Linked DNA regions of Homo sapiens. The protein of the gene in region 2 purifies or fractionates together with the protein of the main gene of each other region. This does not show direct contact. Each region holds a gene or a part of one and is shown on either strand. Other genes may lie near its edges.

Region 1 (3,749 bases), on a different chromosome or scaffold from region 2:
CAACAAAATTAAGTACTTGTTCCTCATATTACATTGCAAAACGATTAACTTTCCAAGTTGAGCGTAACAATCATAATCACACGACTTGTATGTGAGATATAAAACACAGTAAGTATTGAGGATTTAAGTTTATCATATCGTAAACCGCCTGCGCCAGAAATAAAAGTATCTCAAAATACACACAAATAATCTTAAAATTCTAGGATAATTTAGGGTGACACAAATACTGGAACCTCTAGTTGGAATATGTGCAAAAGCCTATTCCACCTATCAGGAAGTAAATACGGAGTTGAAATTAAGTTAGAACCCTTCCACTTTTATTATTGTCTTTGGTCATTAAAGTGACAGTCAAACACAAATACCATGGTACATTTTATAAATCAACTGTTTTAGCGAATTGTATTACAAAATTAGATAGTCTGAAAGTCTGTGGAAATATCACAAACAGAATACAAATCCAAAACCCACATAAACTGTTCATAAGTGAGCATTTTTTCAACAATCAACTTTTTGTAAATTGATCCCTTCATCTAATTCACCTCTGCCAACTAGGCCTTTACGCCCAGAAGTAGTTGATTTGCAATATATCTTCTATAAGCTGAAATACCATCTTGCAAGGGTCGAGAATAAAATAAAAAGGCCAGAAAAGATCAACGTACCCTTTTTAATAATAAAAAGTAAAGTACCAGGTAAAAGGCCTTTCCTTCCAAGAGAGATAGGCCATAACTATCCCGGGATGGTATGTGTAGTACAGTGCTCTGCTTAACAGAATGTACCATTAAAGCGGTGAATGCTACACTAAGAAACATCATTAACAAATTTATTTTAAAAATAGGTATGAAGGTTCCAATCATCACTATCACAGTTCGTTTTCAGCTATTTAAGGTCTGGCTGAAGTGTTTAAGACACCCACAAACCCGCAAGGGAGGGAAAAACCACCACCCTGCTCCCGGGAGTTTAATGAAAATTAGCAGGTAAGAGAGGCCTCGGCAGCACGCTGGAAATCAAAGAGGGCGGCCGGAGGATTTGGACTGCGGAGGAAAGCCTCGTCCTCCGACCCCACCTCCCCGCACCTTCCCGGCAGGGCGAAGGAGGCGAAGGCGGCGAGGGGTTCATTACTGCCTTCATTAATTGACACCTGTAATGAGGAAACTTTCCGAGAGCCCAGAGCGCCCGGGCCAGGCCGAGCCGGAGCTCCGCGGCGGCCGCCTCTCGGGCGCCCAGGTAACCCGGCCGGGCTGGGCCCGAGGCGCCGCGGCGGCCGCGCCACCGCGCACCTTCCCGGGGCGCTAGGCCCGCACGCCGCCCGGCCCGGCCGTCGCCTCCCGCAGGCCGCGGCAGCCCGGGGAGGCCAGAGAGCTGCGCGAGGACCCCAAACCGTGCACCCCGACAGGCCGCTACCGCGGCTACTTACTTTCATTTAACACCTCCACCAGGTCTGCGCAGTTCTCGCACATCGTTCGGCCGCCGCCCCCCCCCTCCCCCGCTTCGGATCACACTGACTGATCCCGACCGGCGGGGGGGAGGGGAGAGAGGCGGAGGAGGGGGCCGGCCGGCCGGCGGGGCGGGGAGGCGACTAGGGCGGGCGGCGGCGGGGACGGGGCGGGGAGCAAGAGAATGGGGGAGGGGGCCGGCGGTCCCCGCAGCGGGAGGGGGAGAGGAGGGGAGCGAGGGGAGGTGCGCAGGCCGGAGGGGCGCCGAGGCGCCGGCGGCGGGGAAGGGGGGGAAGGACGGGGGGAGGGGAGAGGGGGGGAGGGGGCGGGTGGGGAGAGAAGCAGCAGAGTCACTTCACCGACCAGACGCCGCGGCCACCGCCGACGCCGCCGCCATTTTAACAGAGCGCTCGGGCTGCGCTCGGCTCTTTCCGCCCGGGCTTAGGAGCGGACGAGAGGCGCCTCGCGCTCTCATTCCTCCGCCTCCCTCCCTTTCTCGCCTCTCCTCCGCCCCCCACCTCTCCCTCCGCACACACGCCGCACGCTCCACACCCCGCCGTGGCCGGCTCGCCGCCCTCCCTTTCCTCTTCCGTCCGGCCTCCCCGCCCTCGGTCCACCCCCTCCGCGCGCTCGCCCACCCCGCCCAGCCCGGATCTCTGTCAGCGGCCGGAAGGGAAACGCGAAGCCAGCGCGGCCGCGGGGGGAGTCCGGGTGAGTAGGAGAAGATGGCGGAGGCAACGGACGGGTCGCGGTTGCGTGGCGTCGCCCACCACGACCCACTCCACGGGCTCTGAGGCCCGGGGAGCGCCAGGTCACTCGCTCCGTCCTGTCCCCCGCCCCTGGGCTTCGCCATTTTTCCCCAGGGCCTGGGTCGGGGAGTTGGTGCGGGTTTCTTTGGTGTCCCCGGCCTCTTCCGCGCTTAGGCTTTTGGGGTACGGGAAGCAAGGAGTCAACTTGGGTGCCGGGCCGGGTCTACGCCGTAGCCCTCTTTCGGGCGCAAGGGCCACTCCCCCCGGGGTCTGAGAGTGAATCAGCCCAGGGCCCGGCTTAACTGCATCGGTGATTATCGCTACCCTGCAGTTCCTTGAAGGTCCTCCGTCCTGGAGCAGTAAGATCCTTGACGTAACTAGAAATGGCAGGGTAAGGAGTGTTTGCCTGACATCGTCTCGTTTTTACGGAAGAGGGCCCCTCACGATGTGCCCATCAGCCCCACCTGAAATAGCAAGAAATCTTCTTCAGCAGAGAGCGAATAACAAGGATATTAAGATAAAGAACAGGTGAAGGGGGCAGTCAGCTGAAGCTTGTAAGGGAATTTTCCTCACGCCGGCACTTACCCCTTGCTTGCTAATTTTTGTGTTCAACGTGTTTACATAGACATGTGACTGCAAAGTCCGAAAGATCGTGTACAGAATCTCTGAACGGTAACCAGAGTGTCTGTCAAGGCTCTGTAGTCATTCTCTCGATAGCTTTTGTGGAGGTTATGGCACGCCCATCTCTCCATGCCAGAACCACCTGGTTCCAAATGCTTTGCCTTTCTGCTGCTTGAAGTTGATACTATAAACAGTCTGCCCAACCCGTTTTGTTTCCCACTAGCAGGTGATCCTTAGGATTGTAGTTCTATTCTACCATCATCTTCCCTTCTTCCTTGTCTTTCTCACAGAATTGGGTTTTTGCAGACTTACTTTGGATCCTGAGGCAGACATTCGTTGTCCACTCAACATACATTCCCACGTATCCCTTTTTTCCCTGCCAACACAACCCCAATTATTTTTATTTGAATTTTTTTTTTTTGAGACAAAGTCTCACTCTGTCGCCAAGGTTAGAGTGCAGTGGTGCGATCACAGTTCACTACAGCCTCCACTTTATGGGCTCAAGGGATCCTCCCACTTCCCTAGTAGCTGGGGCTACAGGCGCTCTCCACCACACGTAACTAATTGTTTTTTATTTTTAGTAGGGACAGGGTCTTGCTATGTTACCCAGGCTGGTCTCAAACTCCTGGCCTCAACTGATCCTCCGGCCCAAAATGTTAGGATTACAGGTATGAGCCAACGTGCTGGTCTCACGTTTTTTCAGGTAGCAGTTGAAACCAACCATCATGGTGATCTGGCTTTTCTAGGGCTGGCCATACATAATTGAGTTCCTCCTGATAAAAGGTAAGCAACAATCCTGAGAAACATAGTGGGAGCCCTGTGTCTACAAAAATTTAAAAGGTGGCTGGGCGCGTTGGCTCACTCCTGAAATCCCGCACTTAGGGAGGCTGAGGTGAGCAAATCACCTGAGGTCGGGAGCTCTAGACCGGCCTGACCAACATGGACA
Region 2 (3,749 bases):
TTAGCCAGGCATGATGGTGTGTGCCTGTAGTCCCAGATACTTTGGAGGCTGAGGTGGGAGGATTGCTTGAGCCCAGGTTACAGTGAGTTATGATCACACCACTGCACTCCAGCCTGGGTGACAGAGCAAGACCCCATCTATTTTTTAAAAATTAAATAAATAAAAAATAAACATTGTGCAGTAGATCTCTAGAACTTTTTCACCTTACAAACCTAAAATTCTATACCCTTTAAACAATTCCTCTTTTCCCTCTCTCCTAGCCACTGGCAGTCACCATTCTACTTTCTGTTTCTTAGACTTTGATTGCTTTAGATACTTCATATGAATGGAAACATGCAGTATTTGTCTTTTTGGGGCATTGTGCTCACTTTTAAGGCTTTTGATACCTAGTACTAAACTGACCTCCAGAAAGGCTGTTAACGATTTACAGTTTGACTGGAAGCGTGTGTCCATCTGGGCTGAGTTCATTGCTTGCTTAGCATCTATCAGTTGTTTCAATTCTTGCCAGTTTGATAGAGGAACAAATAGTGGACCCAAACAGGGTTTTACTTTGGATAAGGCCATTGTCCTATGAATCCTGGCTGAAATATTTGCTCCAGCACTTAGAAGCTGTGTGACCCGGGACAACTCACTTAACTTTTCAATGCTTCTGTTCCCTTATGTGTAAATGGGGATAATAATATACACGTATACATTATACACACTTATTATGAGGAATTAGTTAATAAATGTGAAGCTGTAAGAACAGTGCCTGGAATATAGTAAGCCCAAATGTAAGGTAGCTATTATCATTTTTGTCAATCCTTGCTAATGTAATACCTGGAAAATTACAGCCAGCTATTTTAATTTACATCTCCTCGGTAATCAGTTGAACGTGAATGTTCTCTGTATTTATACTGGCTATTGGTACTTCTGTCAAGATTTCCTTTTTCAAAGCACTGTGGCAAACGGGATCTCACTTGATCCTCCCAATAAACTCATGAATGAAGAAGGTGGCAATCATCAATCCCCACTTTTCGAATTAAGAAATTGAGCCTCGGAATTCGAATTCTGAGCAATTCCAATTCCAGGATTCGGATCTCACCCTCTAAAACCTAGTAGCTGTTGCAGAAAATATAACGGGAAAAAGCTTTGGTTAGCCGTAACCACCACCCACCCCGGTGTGGCTCCGCCCCTGCCCCGCCCCGGCACCGGCTTGCCCCGCCCCGCCCTCTACGCGGGTTTCCAGCCATCCTCTCTGCGCACGCGCGGCCGCTCCTGCGGGCGGAAGCCTCCTGGCGCTCGGCCCTGCGCCCCTCCCCCCGGCGCGCGGCCCCGCCCAGGACGAGGGGCGGTGGGCAGGCAGCGCTGGGTCCAGTGGTCGGGGGAAGGCGAGGATTACCCTCCCGGAGGCGTTGTCTGCGACTCGGCGGAGGCTCCAACTTCCAGTGGCCCGGTCGGGAAAGGTACAGACTCCCAAGCCTCTTGGTCGGCGGCTCCAGCGACCGCCATTTTCCTCCAGGAGAGGGAAGAGGGCAGGAGGCGGGGGCCGTCCCCTGGGGCCGGGCGGGCCGGGGCGGGGTCGGGGGGCCGGGCGGTGGGGGGCGGGCCCGGCTGGCTATGGGGCCCGGCCCCCTGGCCCCAGGAGCGGCTGCTGCGGCGGAGTTAGGCCGGCCGCAGTGGGAAAACCCTGGGCGCCCTCTGGGTCTCAGCGTCCCATTAGGACGGTTCCGCGCTGGGTGCCGCACGCCGCACAGTGGGCAACGCTTTCACAGGGGTCTTTGCATTTCACCCGCACACAGCAGCTCCTGGAGGGAGGCCAGGAAAACACTTAACCCATTTTGCAGACAGAAAACTAAGGCTCAAAGTGGGGAGGAGACTTGCCCAGGGACACCCAGCGAGGTTGTGGCCTTGGGACTCGGTTCCTACTCCCCCACATCCAGCGCCCTTGCCACCAGACCACTCTGCCTCACCTGGCAAAGGATGGGGCGGAGCTAAAGGATTAGAGGAGTAACTGGCAGGGTATTTTTTGTTTTGTTTTGTTTTGAAGATCTGCCTCTTTCTGTACCACCCAGATCAGAGCCTCCTAAGAAATATCCAGAAGTCAAGCCATGGATCCACCTGCACGTAAAGAAAAAACCAAAGTTAAAGAATCTGTCAGCAGAGTTGAGAAGGCCAAACAGAAATCAGCCCAGCAGGAGCTGAAGCAGAGACAAAGAGCAGAGGTGAGATTAAGGCGGAGGCTCTGTATGCCTGTAGTCTGCTGGAGATGATGCTGGAATAGAGAAACAGCAGAAAGGAGAACTGACAGCGAGCCATACTTGCCTCCAGGCAGGATGGGTGTTCTCCCAGGTTTAGAGGGGACAACACTGAGGTTCAGAATGGTGAGGTGGCAGCCCAGAATCACATGCCAAGTTAGTGTCAGAACCCCAGTCTGGTGCGGAGCTTTTGTGGTAAGAGACCCAAGGGAAGGAAGAAAGGAAAAAAAATGATATGTAAGGGGAAAGAAGGGGTCAGAATGAGAGAGAGCACGCAAGTGTCAGACACCCCCAGTACAGATGTTCTGGATTTGGTGCGGAAAGCAGCTACTCATGCCAGGTAGAGGCCCAAGCTTTAAACTCACCAGTGTGTTCCTTTGTTCTCTCAACGATTACAATCAACTTGAGAATAAAAAGCTTTAAACTTTACCCTGCCAATATTGAGCCACATACAGACATAAGTATTTTATTTTAGTATTTAATGTCAGGGAAAATCTTGCTGGTCTCTTTTTCCCTCTTTGTTTTGTTTATCTGTCTGCTTTGTTCATTTCCTGTCTTACATCCTTTTACTTCTCCATGGACAACTACTTTTTTTTATACTTTTACATTCAAATATATTAATAGATATCCTTGAACAATATACAGTAGTATTTTAAATTTTTACATTAATAAAATTCCTGCATTTTATTTTGCATTTTGCTTACATTGTTTTTTAGAACTATTCATGCCAATATAAGAATTTAGTTTATTCTCATTAATTTTTATAATAGTCTATTTTATGCATCCATTTTACTTAGTATATTTATTCATTCTTACAGAGATGCACATTTAAATTATTTATAGTATTTTTTGCTATTACAAACATTGCTGTAGTGAAAAGCTTTTAGGTGTCTCCTTTGGCACCTGCCTTAGAATTTCTGTAGGTTATTTAACTAGAAAAATTACTGGGTACATTCTCAATTTTACTAGACATTGCCACATTGCTTTTTTTTTTTGAGATGGAGTCTCTTTTTATTTTTTATTTTTTATTATTATACTTTAAGTTCTAGGGTACCTGTGCACAACATGCAGGTTTGTTACATATGTATACATGTGCCATGTTGGTGTGCTGCACCCATTAACTCGTCATTTACATTAGGTATATCTCCTAATGCTTTCCCTCCCCCCTCCCCCCACCCCACAACAGGCCCTGGTGTGTGATGTTCCCCTTCCTGTGTCCAAGTGTTCTCATTGTTCAGTTCCCACCTATGAGTGAGAACATGCGGTGTTTGGTTTTTTGTTCTTACGATAGTTTGCTGAGAATGATGGTTTCCAGCTTCATCCATGTCCCTACAAAGGACATGAACTCATCCCTTTTTATGGCTGCATAGTATTCCATGGTGTATATGTGCCACATTTTCTTAATCCAGTCTATCATTGATGGACACTTGGGTTGGTTCCAAGTCTTTGCTATTGTGAATAGTGCCATAATAAACATACGTGTGCATGTGTCTTTATAGCAGCATGGTTTAT
Region 3 (3,749 bases), on a different chromosome or scaffold from region 2:
CAACAGCTTGGAATATAAGCAAAGGAGAGTAGGATTGGAAGACTTAAAATAAGAGGAGAAAAGAGGACAGACAAGTGAAGGGAGGGAGGTGTAGGGTTTTTTACTCACACCTGGAGGTGTGAGATGAGCTGTCCCACGGTGATTTCCTCGGCTATCTTCTGGTACAGACTCTGGCTGTTCAAGACCATGCTCTCCAGGATGGCCAGGGACCTCTGAAGGATTGACACGTCCACCATGGGCTGGCTCACATACCCTGCAATCTAGACCCAGAGATGGCACATCAATTGAGAAGCTCAGGGCCCAAGAAAGATAGAAGCTTAGCATCTGATGCTAGCCCTTGAAGCTCTCTCTGCTTCACATTTGGGCAGCTGTTGCTAGGTGGATAGTGGTATCTGGTTTACGGCTACCCTGGCCAATGTGCCAGGGATTCCCTTGGCATGGATACCTTAATCTCAGATTATAGTATCCACTTAATTGTGTTTCCTCAAAATCTAAAAGCTTAATTCTTTTTATCAAAATAAGGGTTCCAGTTTGAGAAAGTGGGGTATAAAAAAGCAGAGGATTTTACTGATACTGGGATCTCATTTTATCTCCATGTACCTCCCCTGACACACACTCCCCCTAAACACACTTAGACTTTGAGAGGTAGAAAGGACCTTGAAGCCTTTTACTCTAATCCTTCTTCTCAGTCCCCATTATAATATCCTTGACACATGGTCATTTCACTTGTGTCCAGTGTCGGGGAGTCCCAATGTCCTAAGCCAATGATAGCTGAAGTTCTAGGGCAGCAGATACAATATTATTCATTGGTTTTAGTTCAGTATTCTGAATTGACACTGCTCCTTTGTGTAAAAGAAAGGAGGGTAAAACCAGAAGTACCCTCTCCTACCCACTGAACTTAGTCTGACAATCCAAACAGGCTACCTTGCAGATTTGTAAATAGAAGGCAAATTTACAAATGAAATGCAAATTTTTTTTATATATATACAAAAAGAAGAGAGAGCTCAGGAAGTCGGTCAAAAGACTCAGGGCTAGTACTGGTTGACTGGCTGGCTTTATCCCCAGTCTCACTGACAATCTAATTCTACTTTGATCATATTTAGTTCTGACGGTCCAGTTCCATCTCAGTGCAGGCCCTGAGAATATAACAAAATGCAAATCTTTCAGAAGCCACAGAAGACTAGAGCTTGAGGATGAAAAATCTGGCCCCAGGGAATATAAAGCTGATCTCACCAGAATGGCGATATTGCCTGTATCTCCCCTTAAGCCTTGTGAACTGGCAGCTGAGGGAGGAGAGAAAGACAGAATGTTGGAGGCCTCACCTGCTTAATAAAGGTGATTGAAACCATGTCCCAGGAGACAATGCCATGGTCCATGAGCTCTAGGAAGGCAGTCAGGGTGAATGCCAGCATCTCACTGTAGCTGAGACACGTGCAACACACACACAAAATAGACAAAGATTCAGATCGGGAAACACAGGTGTGAGGGCAGCCACAAAAAAGATGAATTTTAATGTGAACACCCCATGGGAAATCAGTCGATGCAACTGTAACTGTAAGTGCCTGTGTGCACACCTAGCCAGTGTAGAGCAGATTCAGCCCAGGTATCTATCGCTGCAAAAAAAAAAAAAAAAAAAAATGTTGCTGGGTAATTAGATCTTCCTTCTCCATATGCTTCATCCCAGGGACACAGAATCACTTATCTATTTCCCAAGACCAAAGAAGACATTGGACCTTTGTCAAACTCCAACACCTGTTGGGAGAACCTAAGGAAGTGTAAGTGCCATGTTAACCTTTGGGCCAAGAGGCAGTAGAGTGCAAGAGATGGGTTCAGTTCCTGTCCACCTTACTAACCAAGCAAATTTTATCTTTTCAAAATTCAATTTCTTCCTCTGTAAAATCAAGTTAGTCTCACAGCGTTAACCTCACAGGGTTGTGGAGACGACAAGATGATGATGTATGCAAAGCTCTTATTCTAGTGCTGGTAGAGAATAAGGATTAAAATGTTTTCTCTTTTTTCTCTTCTCCTTATACATTTAATCCTTTATACATCTGTACAGTGCTCTAGAATTAACAGATGATATTCCTATTTACAAAGCATGTTCAGACACATTCTCATTAACAATACTTCTCACAATAATACTGCAAGGTAGCTATTATTATCCTCAGGCTGAAGAGAGTGAAACTAAGGCCAGTCTAACCCTGTACCCTTGGGAGACTGTAGAACTATGTCAGTGCTGATGGCAGCTGAAGGCTTCAGGACTTCAATACAGCTGGAAGATCCAATATGTAAAACAAATATCTATGATTAGTTACTCGATTTGGCTAACAATTTCAATAGTTGATCTATGGGCTGAGAAGATTTCTGACTCCCTCTTTGGCAGGTTAGGCTCCAAGCACCTGTTTACTGACTGCTGCTCACAAGGCACAGCTGCCCACCGCATGCATGTGAACTCTGGGGTATGATGAAGATGCTTGTGGGTATCACAAAGTTCTGGTCTCCTCCTCCCTGTGCAAAAGTGTGGCAGGGAGATGGTGAATGGGTAGGTTGACACCTGTGGTAAACACAAAGGAAGGCGTGTGTGTGTGTGTGTGTGTGTGTGTATGGGCTGGGAGGTGACTGAAGAGGGAGGAGCAGGGGATGATTACAAACAGACACCTGGGAGATACTGGACCATCTGCTCACTAACCCTCATCAAACCAAACATTTCCAGCAATTAACAGGTCTGTCACGACGTGACTGCTCTCCTCCTGACTTCTCTAGCCCCTATTTTCACTGCTCACTTGGCACAGTACTGTTTTGTACTGTTATTTAATTTGTGAGAGCCCAAATAGACTACACGATTTAGAATCACAATATGGAATTATATATCTTGGTATGGACTCTAGTGCTTGGCACACTGCTCTGCACACAGGTGGTATTCAATAAACTCCTTATTTGACTCAAGGGAAATGAGACTAGGATGCCCTGTGGGATGTAGTAAATCGTCGAAGTCCTTGGAACGAGACCTTAGTCATACTCACTGGGACAAGAGCTTGGTTCCACTTTCCACGAGCCTTGTCAGCACAATGATGCCATCCATGTTGATGAACTCAGTAGCGAAAGTCACGTCGGCAGAGAGCTTGGCCAGCTCCTTCATGGCATCCAGCCGGGTCTCCATGTTGGATGACTGGGTCCTCTCCATCAGCTGGCGTGCAGCCCGGGACTAGGAGGCCAGGGACAAGATATGTGCCATCTGCTCCTTGGAGCAGGTTACTACTCTGTGGATAGCTCACAGAGGCCCTTCTGTGGACATCCAAACCTGAGGCAGAACTAGTTTTTTCACACAGCTTAGGAGTTGCTAAATAAATGTTTGTGGAATCAATCAGGGAGTTATTAGTATGCCAAAACCAATCTGTAGTTATCTGCATCTTTTCTGTACCGCTTTGGCCTATGGATTTAAAAAATTCCTACCAAGGGAATACTGGAGGCATCTGGGAGGCCCACTAACGATGGTAAGTCACAGAGAAACAGATACTGGTTTAATAGAGGAAGGTTTTCTATTTAAGCTGTCTTGCTGGGTGCGTGGCTCATGCATGTAATCCCAAGGCTTTGAAAGGCCAAGGCAGGATTGCTTGAAGCCAGGAGTTAGACACCAGCCTGGCCAACAGAGTGACACCCTGACTCCCAAAAAATTTTTTAAAATGAGCCAGGTGTGGTGGTGCACACCTGTAGTCCTAGCTACTCAGGAGGCTGAGGTGGGAAGACTG

What was found.
Region 1: the proteins of ERMAP (region 2) and USP34 purify together in Homo sapiens (affinity purification with mass spectrometry; 2 studies listed by BioGRID and IntAct, with this or other methods). This does not show direct contact.
Region 3: the proteins of ERMAP (region 2) and ELMO2 purify together in Homo sapiens (affinity purification with mass spectrometry; 2 studies listed by BioGRID and IntAct, with this or other methods). This does not show direct contact.

Annotation. Positions count from the first base shown.
Region 1 is NC_000002.12:61,469,236-61,472,984, forward strand, and holds the start of USP34 (ubiquitin carboxyl-terminal hydrolase 34), read right to left. Parts: upstream 1,853-3,749; 5' UTR 1,458-1,852; coding exon 1,415-1,457; intron 1-1,414. UniProt on the Homo sapiens protein: Ubiquitin hydrolase that can remove conjugated ubiquitin from AXIN1 and AXIN2, thereby acting as a regulator of Wnt signaling pathway.
Region 2 is NC_000001.11:42,814,886-42,818,634, reverse strand, and holds the start of ERMAP (erythroid membrane-associated protein precursor), read right to left. Parts: upstream 1,514-3,749; 5' UTR 1,382-1,513; exon of another isoform or gene 1,238-1,381; intron 1,102-1,237; exon of another isoform or gene 820-1,101; intron 1-819. Other genes in the region: SVBP (small vasohibin-binding protein), read left to right, coding at 2,091-2,204. UniProt on the Homo sapiens protein: Possible role as a cell-adhesion or receptor molecule of erythroid cells.
Region 3 is NC_000020.11:46,386,016-46,389,764, forward strand, and holds part of ELMO2 (engulfment and cell motility protein 2), read right to left. Parts: intron 3,206-3,749; coding exon 3,024-3,205; intron 1,776-3,023; exon of another isoform or gene 1,685-1,775; intron 1,423-1,684; coding exon 1,323-1,422; intron 261-1,322; coding exon 109-260; intron 1-108. UniProt on the Homo sapiens protein: Involved in cytoskeletal rearrangements required for phagocytosis of apoptotic cells and cell motility. Acts in association with DOCK1 and CRK. Was initially proposed to be required in complex with DOCK1 to activate Rac Rho small GTPases.